4 linked regions of the Homo sapiens genome follow. The protein of the gene in region 2 purifies or fractionates together with the protein of the main gene of each other region. This does not show direct contact. Each region holds a gene or a part of one and is shown on either strand. Other genes may lie near its edges.

Evidence for each region. The genes of interacting proteins can lie anywhere in the genome.
Region 1: the proteins of PPP2R1A (region 2) and SERTAD4 purify together in Homo sapiens (affinity purification with mass spectrometry; 5 studies listed by BioGRID and IntAct, with this or other methods). This does not show direct contact.
Region 3: the proteins of PPP2R1A (region 2) and LPP purify together in Homo sapiens (affinity purification with mass spectrometry; 5 studies listed by BioGRID and IntAct, with this or other methods). This does not show direct contact.
Region 4: the proteins of PPP2R1A (region 2) and PPP2R3A purify together in Homo sapiens (affinity purification with mass spectrometry; 7 studies listed by BioGRID and IntAct, with this or other methods). This does not show direct contact.

The regions. Positions count from the first base shown.
Region 1 is NC_000001.11:210,235,783-210,240,137, reverse strand, and holds part of SERTAD4 (SERTA domain-containing protein 4), read right to left. Parts: intron 2,853-4,355; exon of another isoform or gene 2,670-2,852; intron 2,195-2,669; 5' UTR 2,178-2,194; coding exon 2,003-2,177; intron 646-2,002; coding exon 530-645; intron 1-529.
Region 2 is NC_000019.10:52,194,928-52,200,107, reverse strand, and holds part of PPP2R1A (serine/threonine-protein phosphatase 2A 65 kDa regulatory subunit A alpha isoform), read right to left. Parts: intron 1-5,180. UniProt on the Homo sapiens protein: The PR65 subunit of protein phosphatase 2A serves as a scaffolding molecule to coordinate the assembly of the catalytic subunit and a variable regulatory B subunit.
Region 3 is NC_000003.12:188,608,644-188,612,998, reverse strand, and holds part of LPP (lipoma-preferred partner), read right to left. Parts: intron 3,839-4,355; coding exon 3,155-3,838; coding exon of another isoform or gene 3,134-3,154; exon of another isoform or gene 57-3,133; intron 1-56. UniProt on the Homo sapiens protein: May play a structural role at sites of cell adhesion in maintaining cell shape and motility. In addition to these structural functions, it may also be implicated in signaling events and activation of gene transcription.
Region 4 is NC_000003.12:135,968,715-135,973,069, reverse strand, and holds part of PPP2R3A (serine/threonine-protein phosphatase 2A regulatory subunit B'' subunit alpha), read right to left. Parts: intron 1-4,355. UniProt on the Homo sapiens protein: The B regulatory subunit might modulate substrate selectivity and catalytic activity, and might also direct the localization of the catalytic enzyme to a particular subcellular compartment.

The DNA.
Region 1 (4,355 bases), on a different chromosome or scaffold from region 2:
GTCCATGTTTCAACAAACTTATATGTAACCCATGTCCAGTGAAGTGCATATTTCTACTTGTATACACACATTCAAGGATGATGAGTCTACCCATAAGAGGTCAGGAAAAGCCCTGTGTAACCACCCCCATGTGGACACACAGGGAAGTAGCATTGGCTGCAGGAGCCAGAACTCAGACTGGGGAGAACATGACAGGAAAGAACGAGCGCATTCCCCACACACAAAAGTGTGGAAGAACCATAACCCAAAACACAGTCTGAGAAATATTAAATCATACGTTAAAAAAAATTCCTTGGATTACATAATTTTGACATTTCTGGGTAGAATAGCTCTTGCCAGCTTTTTCTTCAAGTACTTGTGAAAAATAACACAGGACCCAAAAAAGCGACAACGATTAATGAGGCTCCACTGAGAAGTGGCTCATTTTCATTGCTTGGGTGAAACAATTTAATTCCTGGAAGTGGATCAAGCAACTGTTACTAAGTATCTTAAACTCTTAATAAAAATAATGACTATTAAAAAAACATACTTTATGGCTACAGCTGCTGAGTGGTGGGTGAAAATCCTCTTCTTCCACATACTTCCTCTTAAAGTATGTGATCTTGGATGTTGTTATAGGATTTGAAATTCCCCTGTAATGTGATCCTGTGGTAATAAATCAGATATGACAAATGACATGCGGTTTGCCAGAGGTTCTCCAAACAAAATACTTTCGTTTCCTTTCCTTCTAGAGGATAACTTGGCTACATATTTGTCTGTACATGTGGTGATTAAAAATAAACATTTGTCTTAATAGTTGCTATCATATGGAATCCTGTGACCCAGGCTAGGAAAAGATTTCTAGGCAATTATAGAGGAAAATCACATATTTTAGCATTTAATAAATATGCAGAATCTTAATTCTATGCAAAAGGAAACTGCAACATTCATAAAGGGGAGGAGTGTAATTTCTCTAAAATATATTAGTATTTATTTAAATTGTTTAATTAAATTCATGACAACATAGCACCACTGTTAAAGATGTATACATCTTTAACTGTAACCACTGATAACCAAACAACTTTGAAATCTTATTGGCTTTAGGTTAGTGAACAAATGGTTATCTGCACATTGGGATTATAGCATTCCTTTTTTTCAAAATACAAAATTCAAATTTTTAAAATTTGAGTTAAAATTTTGGGTAACTAATGTCCTTTTCACTCTCCAAAATGTAGTATGCCAACCATGAAGACCACAGTTTTTAATCTTTTTTAGCAAAACAGACTTCATTGAGTACTTGTTTTATATTTTAGTTTCTTTTAAAAATAGCTAATACTGCAAAAAAATCCAAAGGAACTTAAACTATAAGAAGAAAGAATCAGGAAGAACATACTTCTATTTTCTTGGCTTTAAATTTTTTTCCTACAATCCTAAAACCAATTGTGTGCTTTACCCATTTATGCCATAGGTTGCAAATTTTTTTGTGTTTGAAAAGTCAGACCTTGGTGATGACCTTGAGCAGTAGGATATAAATAACTTCCACAAGCTTAGCGTTCCAATAATGGAACACTGGGCATAAATGGGTTAACAAAGAAAAGAAGCTCATAGCTGCTGGCCCAAAGTGCAGATTCCTTTATATCTCATGGGATAAAGGTGTCATTGTTGAGCCCACCAGAGCTTTCATAGTTGTGAGAGAACCATACAGTTCCACAGGGTAGAAAACCAAAACCCAAACTCAGAGTTTCAATATCTGGTTTGGCCCTCTTAAAAATACAGACACATGACTTATATTCAAAAAGCAGCATGGGTAGACACAGGTTTGAATGCAATTTAAATATCACCTCTGGTCCTCTCTCTGGAGCTCTGGACTCACTTATGAGAGGCGCACAGGCAGCCCGGGAAGTCCCTGGAGCTTTAGCTCTCCTGGCTCAGAGGGGCACCCCAGACACCACCTCCTGTCCACCAGGCTGGCTGCAAAGGGCAGCGAGGGGTGGGGGGGATGGGCGCAGGTCAAGGGCAATACCTGCCAGTGGGGGACCAGCTCCCCGGTCTCCCTGCAAAGGAGCTTGTGCTGGCCCTGGGGGGCTTGGGCCTCCGTAGCTGTCAGCCTCCCATAGTGTTTGGTACCCAGCAATTTCAGCAGCTCCTTCCGAGACAATGGGCTCGCAGAATCTATTCATGGACAGAACCAGAGTCATCTCTGACAGCCTCAGATCTGAAAAGAAAAAAAAAAAAAACAAGAATGAAGAAAACAGCCCTAATCAAGAGCAAGCCAAGGGACGGCCTTGGCATCTTCATTTCTTTGCTTTGGGAAACTTTTACTTCTCGGCCCTCCCCTTTACCCTGAAACATTTTATTATTTTTTCAAAGAAAACCTCAGCAAACTCTCTAGCTGCTATTAGCTCAGCCTCTGTGTTCAGCAATCTGCATTTCATGGGCGGATCTTTAAAACCCCATTTCTTATTGTTCTCAGATTCCCTTCAGCCCTCTTCTAGACAGCTGCTTTGCCTCCTAAACACATTTTCCTCCTGACCTTCCAAAGAAAATGTACTGCTAAGAAGCCAAAACCCTTGCGCTTCCTTTCTATTAATAAGGCAAAATCAATTTTCTAGTCAATCCCCCGGGAGTCTCCTTTGATGAAATCCACTAATCAATCAAAAGAAAAGGGCAGGGGAAGCAGAAATATCCACCGTAATTCCAACTGATGCTCTGAGGTTCAGTCTGTTCCGCTGCCCCCTGCACCCTCCTCCTCTCGTTTCCGCAGGCCAGTTCCTCTACAACATGCTGGGGCTCCCTCCACTTTCTTCTCCCAAAGCAAAGCAGACAGAGAGACACTTGGTAGTTGTTTCCACCAGCCCTGATCGGCCTGAACTGGATCTGCCTCCAGTCAAAACACTGCGAGATGAAGACAGAAAATTGGCTCCAGTTTCAAGCCGTGAGTTGCAGTCCCACAGGAGCCAAGCACAACATCAACGGAGCAGGCAGAATATTAAACAGGAGCCAGGCTCTGGGGCCAGAGGCAGCCAACAACTCTTTACACTGCAAAGCCCAGACACAGAGCAGGAACTTTCCAAGAGGCAACACATCACTGCCCTTCTCTCCAGTTCACGCCCTTCTCCCTTGGGCCTGCAGGGAGATGGGAGCTTCTCTGCTCTGTGAGGCTTCCTGGGCCCCTCGATAGCTCAGGCAGTGAGGCCGCTTTCATGGGGGCTCTGTGTCTTCACTTGGCCCTTTGCAGGTCTCGAGGTAGGGTCAAGAGTAAGTTCAAGGGAGAGGAGAGTCTGATATGAAGGTAAAAAGACCTAGCAGCCATAGACCAGTGGTGACAGTAGCGCAACCTCAGTGCCTCCTTAACTGCCAATCCCTTTAGGAGACTCAAGCCCCCACTATCTCATTCTGTGGTTTCAAGAACTGTCACACAAGTGACGTCAGGCTTTCTGAAGATTGATTGTCTTTCAAACATAAACTAAGGGCCCAGTTCTTGCTTTCTTTTCCAAATTATACAGCTTGTAATGTTTCTGGGAAAGAGTGAATCTACCATTGTCTCGTGGGAGACTATTATTACCTACATGCTATAACAAGGGTCCACTTCCAAGGAAAAAGAGGAAAAACACCAGGGTAAGGCGAAATAGCATCATTAAAGTGACAATGTCCTTCTGGCTAAAAGAGCAGCTCTTGGCAGCAATGACTCTACCTTTCACCCAGTCTTCTCTCTGAGGTCTCAAATTCTGTCCCAACCACACTGAATAATGAAGCAAGATCTTTTGACAGACAGGGAAGGTGTACAGGTCAGTGGAGAGAATTAGGACTCAGCTGGTTTGGGCTGCTACAACACCTCCCCGTTCTCTTTTAAGATGCCCTCCAAAGAGACATCAGTACGGACTTATTAGTAAACCTTAAAACAAGTGGGCAAAAGAAAGGTTCGATTAAATCTTTACAAAGAAACGATGGGACATGTCATTTATTTTTCTCTTTGAGTCATCAACAAAGAAATTTAGCCTACATTGATTTAACAAATTAAGTCCTTCTGTCTATCATTTCTCAAACTCCTCATCCAAGTAGGGTATCAAACTTCATGATGATTTATTCCCTGGAAGACTCTCATGAAATTGTCCAGTTTCTTCACCTATTCTAAGAGACAATCATATCAGGAAATACTATTGCCAAGAGCACATGAATTACAGCTTTTCAACAGTCAGCAGCCCTTTCTTATTGAGAGAATCAACATTTTCTAGTTTGAAGTTTACACTCACTTTTGTGTTAGATCATGGGAATAAGATGCAAGCCTTTTGCCTATGCAGACTTTTATTTCATGTAAACAAAAGCAGGTTGTCAAACTCATGCCCCTTAAGAAAGAAAAACATTTGCAGGCTCCT
Region 2 (5,180 bases):
TTCTGAGGCCCTACATAACTGAGACGAGGTCTACAAGTGACTAAGATCTTGCGTGAGTTGGGTTCTCCGGTCCAGGAGTTGAAGAATATCTCTGCGATCACAGACGATGAGCATCTGATGAAGTGTTGTGATGGTCTCTCCTCAGAAAAATGCACACAGTAAATCTTTCATACAGGTAGTCCAAAAACTCACCATTCTGGCATTAAACGGACCTCAGGATAAAGTACTACAAAACCTGCAACTGATTTTCAGCTAAAAAATAAAACGTATATAGAGACAGACCTATAGAAAGATAAAAAACTAATATAGCAAACACTAACAATCACTGACCTGGGGTGTAAGTATAGAGGTGCTCACTGCACTATGCTAGAAGTCAGCAAAACTTATTCTATACATTGCCAGACAGTAATTATTTTCAGCTTTGCAAACCTAACTACTGAACTCTGCTTGCGTGGCACTGAAAACAACCATAGAACCAGAACTAGAGAAGCAAACAGGCATAGCTGTGTTCCAATAACTTTACTTGCAAAAGCAGACAGTGGGCTGAATTGGACCCATGGACTGTAGTCTGCTGACCCTTGTGTTAGTCTTCCAAAGTTATGCATGTCTGAAAACTTTCATAATAAAATACTGTGGGGAGGCCAGGCGCAGTGGCTCATGCCTGTAATCCCAGCACCTTGGGAGGCCGAGGCAGGCGGATCATGAGGTTAGGAGATCGAGACCATCCTGGCTAACACGGTGAAACCCCGTCTCTACCATAAATACAAAAAGAAATTAGCCGGGCGTGGTGGCGGGCGCCTATAGTCCCAGCTACTCGGGAGGCTGAGGCAGGAGAATGGCGTGAACCTGGGAGGTGGAGCTTGCAGTGAGCCGAGATGGTGCCACTGCACTCCAGCCTGGGTGACAGAGTGAGACTCTGTCTCAAATAAATAAATAAATAAAATAAAATAACATAAAATACTGTGGGGAGTATTGACCTAGTTGCCTATTTCTTTCCTCTTTGTTTTCTCCAAGTTGATCTGTGTGTTCTTCTCTCAGCCTGAGCTATGGGGAAATATACACATGGGCTAGGGCCATACTAGGTGAGCAACAGCCCTGAGGACAATGAGATGGTACAGGGAATAATTACAATTAATAATCATAATCATAAATGCCAGAACAATAGCAACAAACATTTATTGTTTGCTACGTGCTTGGCAGCAATCCAAGTGATTGACATGGATGATTAACACACTGAATCCTCATAACTGCTCTGAGGTATGTATTGTTAGCAGCGTCCCCACTTCACTGATGCACAGAGGCGAGTGAGGACACTGATGCACAGAGGTGAGGCTGTCACTTACTGGAAAGCAATGAAGCCAGGCAGCCTGACTCAATTTCAATATCATACTGTCATTTAGGCAAAAATGTTTGTATCATGAAGCTTCCATAAAAACCAAAGAGGAAAGGATTCAGAGAGCTTCCTGATAGCAGAACATGCACATTCTTGGAGGGTGGCATCCCCAGGGATGGCACGAAAGCTCCCCGCCCCTTCCTCCATAGCTCACCCTATGCACCTCTTCATCTGTATCCTTTGGAATATCCTTTATAATAAACCGGTAAACCTAAGTGTTTCCTGGAGTTCTGTGAGCCGCTCCAGCAAATTAATCAAACCCAAAGAGGGGGTCGTGGGAACCCCAACTTGAAGCTGGGGATGCCCAAGAGGTGGGCCCATGACAATCAGGCTGCTTTCCCATCCAGAGAGCTCCCTTCCTTCCACTGCTGTTCTTTGGGATTCTGCTTTTGGTTTCATTAAAAGTGTTTCTTCAGGCAGACAGCATCATCAATGCTTGAGAAAGATGGCCTAGGGTGGTACTACAGAGCTGCACTGTCCAGGTTCAAGGCTAAACTGCTTACATATTAGCTGTGGAATCTTGGGCAATCCTTGTACCTTTCTGAGCCTCAATTTTCTCATCTGTGAAGTGGGGATGATGAGAATACCTACCCTCAGAGGGTTGTCTTGAGTACAAAATGACATTCTACAGGGACACCCTAGCACCAGGGGAAGATTAATAATGGCAGCCGTGGCAACCACGCCTCACTGACAGCATCCTGATTTTGTTCAGATTATTAAGAAGGACATCGTGGCAGCTGGTCCACTGATGTTTCTTTTCCCTTTTTTCACCATGACAGAATAATAACAGTAAATATTTCCTTAGTCTCTACTATGCCCCAGGCTTTAATGTTTTAATTCATTTGACCCTCACAATCCCATGAGGGAAATACAGAATCCCCCGTCTTGAGGCAGAGAACACAAAGGCACAGGGAGCTTAACTGCATACAGCTTACTGGTAGTAAAGCCAGGATTTGAATCCCAGCCACCAGGTTCTTAACCAGTACTATGGATTCATATTTGCTCTGTTTTTTCTTTTTTGTTGTGCTTGTTGTTGTTTTGAGGCAGGGTCTCACTCTGTTACCCAGGCTGGAGTGCAGTGGCACAATCGTAGCTCACTGTAGCCTTGACCTCCCGGGCTCAAGTGATTCTCCCGCCTCAGCTACCCAAGTAGACGGGTCTACAGGCAGGTGTCACCAAGCCCAGCTAGTTTTTTAACTTTTTGTAGGGATGAGGCCTCACTATGTTGCCCAAGCTGCCCTCAAACTCCTGAGCTCAAGCAATCCTCCCACCTCGACCTCCCAAAATGCTAGGATTATAGGCATGAGCCACTGCACCCGGCTTTTTTTGGTTTTTCTCTTGTAGAGGGGTGGGGTGGTGCCATGAATCCCCTTAGCAGGTCTAATAATGAACGCAATTTTGAAAGAGGTGAACATAAACAACACTAGAAGATATGTATAATAGCAGAAATGACATGTGAACACAACTCCTGATTTCCACTGGTAAGTCACAGGTTTTGCTAACGCTACCTATGATATACTATAGTGATATTATAATCTATAACAGAAGGGAAGTTAAATGTAAGTTAAAGGTTAATGAAAATAAAGATGTTATTTTTGCCATCCAAATTCATGGACCTGCCTGGGAATTGCAGATGATCCCCAAGTTAGGAGCTCCTGCATGGGGCTATACTGCTGTTCATAATCCTTGGTTTTCAGCTGTACACATGACCCCTGGAAAAGACATTTCTGAATTGCCTTTGCATCTGAATGTGACTATAAAACTAACATCTGGCCAATAAAATCCAAGTGGAAATGTTTTGTGCAACTTATAGGGATGGGGGTCACACTTATCTTCCCTCCTTCCTGTCTGGAATGGAGCTATAATGGTTGGGGCTTCGGCAGCCAACTTGGGGACCTGAGGTAACCTGGGGGACACGGAGGGTAGAATGGAGGATACAACCAGCGCATAATGGTAAGAGCCTGGGACCCTGACACCATGAAGTGCCACAGCAGCCTGGATTGCCACCAGACATTTTGGTCATCAGTCAGATAGAAACTTCAAGCTCATTTAAGCCCCTGTTATTTAGAGTTTTTCTACTACTTACAGCCAAACTTAACTTCAACTAACTCTGCATATGACCTAGTTCTTGGCAAAGAGATATACAAGCAAGTCTGCTGAGGAGATTCAGGAGAGATTTTCCTCCTTCATAAAAGGGAGGAGGGAAAGAACCTCTGTGTCCTAAGCTGGCCTCTGCTAAACTGCACTAAAAAGTGCAGTTCCACTAGGACAGCAGATGCTGCTGGAATCTTATAACCAAAACAGGCCAGTCAAAAAAACCGCATTTCTGTGATATCTTTGAGCTGACCCAATTCTGTGATAGCTTTGAGCTGCTGAACTTGCTATATGAGAAATAAAGAGAACTCTTACTTGTTTAAACAACTCTAGGTTGGGGTCTCCGTCACATTCCTGATAGAAAATCTATTAATATCATTTCAGAAACCTTGACTGGCCATTGATCATGTCATATCCTGAGAATTCCCTGTGCACTGACTATCTCCCAAGTGTGTCCCCACCAAGCACCTGCTACAGTTGTGATACTGTGAGATACAGATTTGGGCTTCATCCCCATTTCCTTGCATACAACTCCTCAAATCTTTGGAATCTCCAAGGCGCTTTTTGTATGCTAATGTTGACTGATACCTTCAGGATGGGGTCCATGGTCACTGGAAAGATAGTCATGGAAAACAGAGAGGCATGATTAGAGGGTTGGGATTTTCAGTCCCACCCCACAACCTCCAGGGATCGGAGAGGGGCTGAAGGTCAAGGTGATCACCAGGTTTAATCAATCCTGCCTACCTAACAATGCCTTTATAAAAACCCAAAAGGACAGGGCCTGGGAACTTCAACATAGCCGAACACACAGAGGTTCCTGGAGGGTGGTGCACCCAAGAAGGGCATGGAAGCTCCACACCCCTTCCCCCATAGCTCACCCTATGCCTCTCTTCATCTGTATTCTTTATACTATCCTTTATAATGAACTGATAAACTTACATGTTTCCCTGAGTTCTGAGAGCTGCTCTAGCATATTAATCAAACCCAAAGGCAGGGTGGTCATGGGAACTCCAACTTGAAGCAGGTAGATCAGAAGTTCTGACGACCCAGAATGGCAACTGAAGGCGAGGGCCAAGGGGCAGTTTTGAGGCCTGAGCCCTCAACCTGTTGGATCCAACACTGTCTCCAGGTCGTGTCTGAACTGAATTGGAGGACATCCAGTTGGCGTGTGCTGCAGAACTGAATGCTTGCTTAGTGGTGGTGAAGAATCCCTCCCCACCCCAACACACATTTAGTCACGGAAGTCTTCTTCTGTGTTGTTGATTGTTGTGTTAAGTGAGAGAATAGGAATTGGGATTTTCCAAAGAGTCCACCCATATGGTTCCATGACAGCACTTACCACCCTAGACTGGGACTCTCTGTGTCCCAGCAGGCCTCGGCACAGAGCCTGCTCTGTGGTGAGTTAATAAATAAAATCCGCCTTCCCACTATATGCACCTGTGGAAAGGGGACCCACTTTTGAAGATCCACCCTGCATTCAACCCATGGAGCCTTCCATAATATGAATGTATATGGTATAATCCCACATGTAGTATGTTTTCCCTGCACATTCAGAATAAAAGCTAAGGCCTTACTCTGGCCTACAAGGCCCAACACAATCTGACCCTAGTCTACTGATCCATTCTCACTGGGCCTGGCTTGTCACAACTGCTTCCTTGATAGTAACCAAAAAAACAAACAGCCCAGTGTATTC
Region 3 (4,355 bases), on a different chromosome or scaffold from region 2:
ACATAAACATAATCATGATCCCCTAAGCCTTGCAGGTTCTCATTCTGCCTCTTTCCTTTCTTCATTTTTTCCTTTTCATTTTTTCTTTCCTTTCTCCTTTTCCCCATCCTGTCTCTCCTCTTTTTTACTATATCATATTCCTCTTTTTATACTATCCTGATATAGGAAAACTAAAGCAGCTCATCTCAAATATAAGGGAGATTTATTTATTTCATCTTTTAAACTTTTTCCTTAATGGGTTAAATGCCAAACTCCCCAGAAGCACTCAATGTAATAAAGTATAATTGTTTTCAGACATGAGGGTAAGTTTTCCATCAGTGACTAAAAAAAATTAAAAATAAATGAAAGCGAGTGGAAAGCTGAATAGTCTTCACTTGGCAATTATTCAGCCTTTGGAAATTTCCAAGCCTTTTGCAATCATTAATTAATTAGTAAAGATGGTGTTCTACTTTACTGAGGTTTGAAGCATGACATAAAGAGGTCTAGAGGTTTTCCTCAAACTGGAAGAGGAATGTCAAGGAAAGAACTGGGATAAGAATTCGGAGCTCATTTCTCATGCCCGTAGTCACATAATTAAGCCAAACAGTCAATATAAGGACAATAAGGTCCTCTGTGCACAGGTGCAGTAGAATACAGTAGTGTTTTGCTCAAAGGCCAACTGTGAAGGAACCCACCCTTTCATCAGCCAATGCCCTCACAACGCGCCCAGAATTTATCCATAACTTCATCAGCCTCTTCCCCCTTTCCCAAAGCACAGACAGGACAGATGGCTAAATATCAACCTCTAACCACTCTTAATAATCAGAGTGAAAAGTACATGGTTTGATTTTCATTTTTTCAATGCACAGCCGAATATGATGTGAAAACACATGAAACTGTTGAAAAACAAATATATCAAAAATTTTAAAAATAACATGAAATCTACTGATATCCAAAATCTGTAATCATCTAATAGATCATCTTGAATAACCACCTTGCTCAAATAAGAAGTAAAATAAAGTTCCATGTTTTCTGATGAGTGGTTTATAAAAATTCATTCCATCTCCCTGTGTCAGTTGGTGAGGACAGGCCAAATGTTAGGGATGTGGCTGGACCCAGCACTTTAGATCCAGTTCTAGCAGTGGGGGCTGATTCTTTTTCCTACACCAATGGATGGGTTCCAAATGCTGAAGAGAGGCTGGCCAGAGTGCCCAGTGACTTAGTGAGAAAACAACATCTGAAGACTAGCTCAGTACCTCTCACCAGGTGAGTCTCATCAAGACACATAGTTTTGCTTTCTCTCATGTCTGGTTCCTATGTGGGATAACACAATCCTCCAACAAGGCAGACACCATGTCATTCCTTCAGGAACATCACTCAGCCATCCTTTCAGTCACCCTGTTTTGGGCAGGGCTAAATTGTCTGTCTAGTTGAACTTAAACCTTGACAGCAGTTGTTCTGACCTAAAATTTTATTTTACTGTAATCTTCCCTGGGTAAATCTGTTGCAATTGTTGAAAACAAAAACTGTGGTTAAGTTGAATAATCTGTTTCTCTGAACTGGTTGTTTTGAAAATAGACTCCCCTTGACTGGGCCAGGAGGCACTGGTGCAAATATACTGCGACATTAACAAAGAGCAAGGCTGTCCAGATTGGCTATTATGGACAAATTCATTTTAAAAAGAAATAAAAAACTGTAATAACATTTCTTTTCATAGAGAGACTTAAGAAACTGAGTCATGTTTAAAATCATTTAAAATTCTAATTTGGAATCTATCTATCGGAAAGGGATCATGGCTGGCCAATTTCATATAGTGGTCACACATAAGGCTATAGGATTTCTCCAGCTCTTCACAGTCCCCACTGTCAGGAAGAGCTCTATTCCCCTATAGAATGTGAAATTCACATAGGACACCATTAATATGGCAGACGCTTTCATATAAGAAAAACAGTTTAGTAAATACCCTATAAGGAAATTTTTGATACAATGTTGAATATGTGAATAGATCTGTCTTGAAATGGACAATCTTGTAAAAATGTGGAAAGAATTTTTAAAAATACAGTCCAAACTTCTACCCAATCCATCCCCCAAAACTACCATTGAACTTCTAGCTAATTGAGGGCTCTCAAATTTCTGATTTCTCACAGTTCTAACTGAAAAGAAGCAAGGGCACTCTTCCAACCCAAGTGGCTGGAAACTGGCTCAGTTCCTCTATTTTCACCGATTCCAAGTTATTCTTATTGGTTCCTCTAGTCATAATGGGAGGAATCAACATCGTGTTGGTTCCAGTACTAATGAAAAATCCAAGTTGTGGTGAGTGGGCATGTGTAGTATTACACCTTACCTATTCAGACGAAGTAACAGAGAGTGTTAACTTAAAAGGTCCACATATGGACAATTAAATCAAATAAGAAGTAACTGTCACTCATAAGGAGTTTTTAAACATTGCTTAATAGTGCTAAAGGCTGAAGAATAAGATTCTTTCTGGAGGATTAGTAAAATGAATAAACAAGGGGTCACAAACAAGCTGCATTATACTGCAGCCCCTTCTCAAAGGAGAAACTGTCCAAGGCATTTGCATTATCTTAGACCTGCTTGGCCTCACCCATTTCCTGGGTCCTTGGCCACTTGTTCTGGCCCAGCAACCGCTGTGGTACCAACATTGCGGGAGTTATAATCGCCTTCACAGGGCCACAGCCTGACAGCAGTTCACTCAGTTTTGCCCTCCACATGTCTCACCCATAGATCACTACCCTTGCTGAGGCTTGAGATACTACAGACCTGTTTAATGTCCAAGCAAATGCAAGGTGTAGAGGAAGTTTCTGCACAACAGAGGGAAGCTTTAACCAATATAGGGAAGGATGTGAAAAATAAATTATTTTCTCTTTCTCCATCAGAACACTTTGTCCTCAGATGCTATGGTGTCTGTGGGCTTTGGAAGATGATTCTCTGAGATTGAGCAAGCAATTCCATTTGATACTAAACAGTGGCCATATTAGTAACATACTAAGTAGTCTCTCTCTCCTCTCTGGCTTCACTCATCCTTCCCTGGGATTGTATTTGTCAGTGAAATAAAAGTAACACACACACTTTTGCCTTAGGCTTCGCTTCCTGGGGAAGGCAGACTAAGATAGGCACCCCTGTATTCTCCTCCTTATGTTACTGAGTTTCTTACCTTTGGCTGCAATGGTGGCGCACAGGGGGCTGAAACAGGATCTGTGATATAGGTCTTCTTGGGACCAGTGACTGGATACATCCCAGGAGGGTTCTGGTTCCCTGCTCCAGGAGGAGTGTACCCTGGTTCCCGTTTCCAGGTATTTGGGTGACCTTGTTGACCATAGGTAGGGTCAGAGTCATTTCTGCCCCCATAGCCTGGCCCTGCTGCATAGTAGCCTTCATAATAGCGTCCCTGGTTGGGGGCATACCCATACCCAGGCTCCGGCTGAAGTCCTGGTGGTGGAATGTAGGCATAATCCATGCCTCCCCGTGTTGAAGGAGGTGGACACTGCCCAGAGACAGGAACTGGCTGAGTGTTATAGCCCTGGGGCCCTGAGCCATAAATTTGTCCTGATGAAGGGGCAGCCATATAATGAGGGCTGGGCTGGGCTGACTTCACCTGCACATTAAAGGTAGGCCTTGAAGAAGTGGAGGCCGTGGTGTAGGAGGCTGGGACTGGCTGAGGCTGGGGTTTGAGTGTTCCGATTGGAGCCACAGGGATGGGTCCAGCCTGGGGTGCAGGCTGTGGTTTCAATGTAGACTTCTTGGTTGCTGTTAGAGGGGGTTGGTTCGGGATGACCATTCTCTTGTGTCCTGTGACTGGGGTCGAAACTGGAGGAGAGGCTGTTGAACCAGTGGAGCTCTAAAAAGAATAGGAAAAAAAAGAAAGAAAGAAAGCAAAAATTACTGCCAACGAAACTCAATAAAAATGAATAAATGAAAAATATTAATAACTGCTAATTATTATTTATTACTATGTAGAACACAAATAAGGCATAATCTTGCCTTCAAAGTGTTCACAGATGAACACAAAAATCAGTTGTATATCTGTGCACTGCCGACGAATAGCAGAAAAGGAAAGAAAGGAAAAAATTCTACTTACAGTAGCATAAAAAACTTGGAAAAAAGTTATCTAAGGAGGAGAAAGATTATATACTGAAAACTATTAAACATCGGTGAAAGAAATTATACAAGACACAAACAAACGGATAAACATCTGTGTTCATAGGTTGAAAGACTTGATATTGTTAGAATGTATATCCTACCCAAAGTTATCTATAGATGCAGTGAGATCCCTATCTAAATACCAAAATGAAGTTTTACATACATAGAAAAAACAATTCTAAAACTCACATGGAACCACAAAAGACCACAAAAAG
Region 4 (4,355 bases), on a different chromosome or scaffold from region 2:
CTAAAACTATATATTGCCAGAAGAAAACACAGGAGTAAACTGGCAGGACCTTGGATTTGGTGATAGATTGTCAGATATAATGCCAAAAGCATACACAATCAAAGAAAAAACAAATTCAACTTCACACGAATTAAAAACTTCTGTGCAAAGAACACTAACAAGAAAGTGAAAAAACAGCACACAGTAAGACAGGAAATATTTGCAAATCATAAACCTGATTTGTATCCATATTTACATATGTAAAGAACTCTTAAACTCAACAACCAAAAGACAATCCAATTAAAAAATTGATAAAAGACTTGAACAGACATTTCTCCAAAGATACACAAATGGCCAACACATGAAAAGATGCTCAACGTCAGTAGTCATTAGGGAAATACAAATAAAAATCACAATGAGGCACCACTTCACACCCACTAGGATGGCTATAACCAGAAAACAAAAGTGCTGGCGAGGAGGTGGAGAAACTAGAATTCTCAAAAATTGCTGGAAAAAATGTAAAAGTGTGCAGCATCTGTGGAAAACAGTCTGGGAGTTCCTCAAAAACTTTTTAAACATAGAATTATTTCATAATCCAGCAATTCTATTCCTAGATACATGCACAAAAGAATTGAAAACAGGTATTTAAACAAAAACTTGTAGAAGAATGCTCTTAGCAATACTATTTATAAGAGCCAAAAGGTGTAAACAATCTAAATGTCAACTGATAAACAAAACGTAGTATATCCATACAATGGAGTATTATTCAGCCAAAGAAAGAATGAAGTACTGATACATGCTACAACCTGAGTGAACCTCGTATACATTGTGCTGAATGAAAGAAGCCAGGCACAAAAGGTTACATATTGTATGATTCCATTTATATGAAATCTTCAGAACAGGCAAATCCATATAGACAGAAAGCAAATTGGCGGGTGCCAGACGGTAGGGGTAAAGGGGAATGGCGAGTGACTGCTTAATGGGTACAGGGTTTCCTTTTGGGGTGATGAAAATGTTCCAGAATTAGCGGTGATGGCTGCACAACATTGTGAATGTACATACTGAAGTAACTGATTTGTACACTTTAAAATGGTTAATTTTACCTCAATTAAAAAAAATCACACAGTTCACCCTTGACAAATCCAGGAACTATACTCAGGAACTGACTCCAAGTCCTCTCCCCACTCAGCTATCCTGTTTCCTCCACAAACCAAAGGAGCTCTGGACCACCTTGGTAATGGACTTTTGCCTCTATATACTGCCAGCCAGGCATAGTACCTAACCATATTTGTGATGATGGAATTCCCACAGCTGTCCAAGCATACACAAGTTTCTAAATAAGATATTTTCTTATAATGGACTCACATTACAAACCATCTTGGACCAAGGTCTGCTTTCATGTCACAAAGTCATCCTTTATACAGAAGTTAACCATCATCCACCTAACTGATAAACCAATGACAGCTATGAAGTCTGGTCCCTCACAAGATGATATTCCTGTTTTCAAGAGTATAGCAATGAGGTTTATGCCTTCAATTAATCAAAACCATTCTTAACCAATAATTCTTGGCATTTTCCACCCCTTATATTTTCTGTTCTGTTGGCAGGCTACAACTCTTAGAAATATGAAGCACAAAATTGACCTTAAAAGCCTCTCTGCTAGGTTAAGGTTGCCAATGTGGCAGAAATGGATAAAAGACAAACTGGTTGTGACCATTTGCATTACAACCCATCCTAAATAGTCACTCTAACACCAAGTCTTCGAGGTAGAAGCCTTCACACAACTTTTTGGAAACCAGTTTGCTCAGTGCTTTCTTCTTTCTGAGCTCAATGAGGGCCTACATCTCCAACTTACATCCATATCCCTCAGGTACCATCAATGATAAATACTTCAAAGTATGAGAGTTTTTACATGCATGCAACTGGAAAATTAAGCTATAATATCAAGTTAATTGGAAAAAATACAGCTGCAAAAACTATTCCTGGGAATCTCACAGTTAGATACACATTCCCTAACATAGCCAAGTATTCCATTTTCAGCATACCAACAATATAGTCTTTGTTCATCAGCTCAATGGGAGGATGATGTCAGGGTCACTGGAGCCCAGATCACCACTGGCCTTTAGGAGCTCTACAGCTTTCCAGTTGAGAAAGAAACTTGTGGCCTAATCACCAACATCTGAGTCAGCCCCTTCAACAGTCCTGGCAAAATTTCTTCTCAGTAAAAAGTAGTCTCCAAAACAAGACCCCTAAGAACGTGGGAGAGGGGTAATCAGACACCATTGACCTACATCCCTAAAAAGTTAGGAGAAATGTTTGAGTAACCAACAGACTAACACCTACATTGTAGGCATGTAAGACACCTCATCCTCCCTCACCACTTCCTCTTTTTGGGCAAGCTTCTCAAAGGAATTTCCAACACTTGCCACTCCCATTTCCTTACTTTTTACCCACTTCATTTTGGTTTCTGCCTCTTCCAATCTAAAATGGTTCTTGCTGAGGTCAAAGACTCCATCTTGCTAAATTCAACAGATCATTTTTGTTCCACATCTTTACTTGATGACACCTCTCTATTTGAAACATTCTTCTCTCACCTTTTATGATGCATCTTAAACTAGAATTAGATTGTGAAGGAAACAGCTAAGACAAAAACCAAATATTGTTTAAATTACTCTTGAAAATCCTTTAAATGGCCCGTTAAATATCGCACACCTGTATACAAGTAAATAAAACTTTTCTCTCTCTCATTTAATAAAAAACATGGTAGAGCGCATTCAGTTAAGTTTGCACACTTTAATTCTGAGCAAGGCGTCATTCCACTGTACCTCTGTGGCCACTTCTCATTCTCTTCCTGGGCTATCCTCCTCTACTAAACTTCAAAATGCTGGGCCTGAGCCCTTTTTTCTTAATCTCTGTCAGTGGTTCTCAACTTCCACAGCTAAGTGGAATCACCTCAGATTCGTCCAAGGCAGCAAATCAGATCAAGTAAACAGAAAAAGAAATTTCTTAGGTGGACCACAGCATTAGCATTTTTTAATCATTCAGTGATTCCAATGTGCAACCAAGATGAGAACACTGTTCTATGCTCTCTTCCCAGACCAGGGATCACATGCTCAAAAGCCTACAGTCAGAGAAATAAATGAGCAAAGTGGGCCAGGCATAATTTTAGGGAGTGGTGGGCTCTGTAGTGAAATAGAAGAGCTGCGATCATCTGTGACTTAGCTCCAATTATTGCTGCCATATTGGAAAACCAACTCAGTAGTGCTACATTTTCTCATTTTTAAAGAGAAACCCCAAATCTGGATTTTTCATGAGAAATCTTCAGATTTTAAAATATTGGCAACTAATTCAAAATTAAACAATAACAAAACCACTGTATGGGCAAAACATCTGTGAGTCAGATTCAGCTGTAGGCTACTGCTTTGCAACCACTGCCCTAGATAATTTCATCCACAGCCTTTAATTTACACCTAAAAATTCGTGCCTCCAGTTTAGCCCTCTGCTCTTGGCTCTGAATTAGAATTGTCAAATGCTTATGTGACCTCTCACTTGAAAATCTCAGCAGTCCCAATGTAAACTGTGATTTAAACTCATCTCAAAACTATTTATCCTTAAATGTTCTTTACTTCAGGTAACACCACCACCATTCACTGGTTGGGCAAGCTAGAACCCTGGGAGTCATCTTAGGATCTCATTTCTCCCTCTCAACCCTTGTACCATATCAACCACCAAATCCTATCAATTACGCCTCCTAAATATATCTCATGAATATATGTACTTCTCTCCATCTCCAATACGACCATTCTTTTCTCTCAGCCACCACCTTTTCTCTCCTATGTTATCCACAGTAACCTTAATTAGGGGCAGCTGTCTCCCACACTCAATCTTGTTTCCTTCCAAAGCATTCTAATATGACCAGAATATTTTATAATCACAAATAATTACAAATATATACACATATACACGCATTACATAAATATATACTTATGTAAATATATGTGTTTGTGTGTTTATTTCACCCAACAATTCCATTTCTAGGAATTTACCCTATAAATATATTTATTCACATATGAAACAGCATATTCGTAGCACTGTTTACGGTAAATTACTGGAAACAATCTAAATGTCTGTCAGTGGGGGAATGGTTAAATAATCTATGGTATATCCATACAGTGAAATACTGTACAGTCATTCAAAAAAATAAGGAAACTATATACTGAAGTGGAAAGATTCCCAAGACATTTTTAAGAAAACAGAGTGTACAGTATGCTACCATTTGTGTAAAACAGTAAGAGGAAAGATATGCATTTCCTTGAATGCCCACAAAAAATGTCTACAATGATATACAAAACTAGTATCAGTGGTTATTCCTTTGG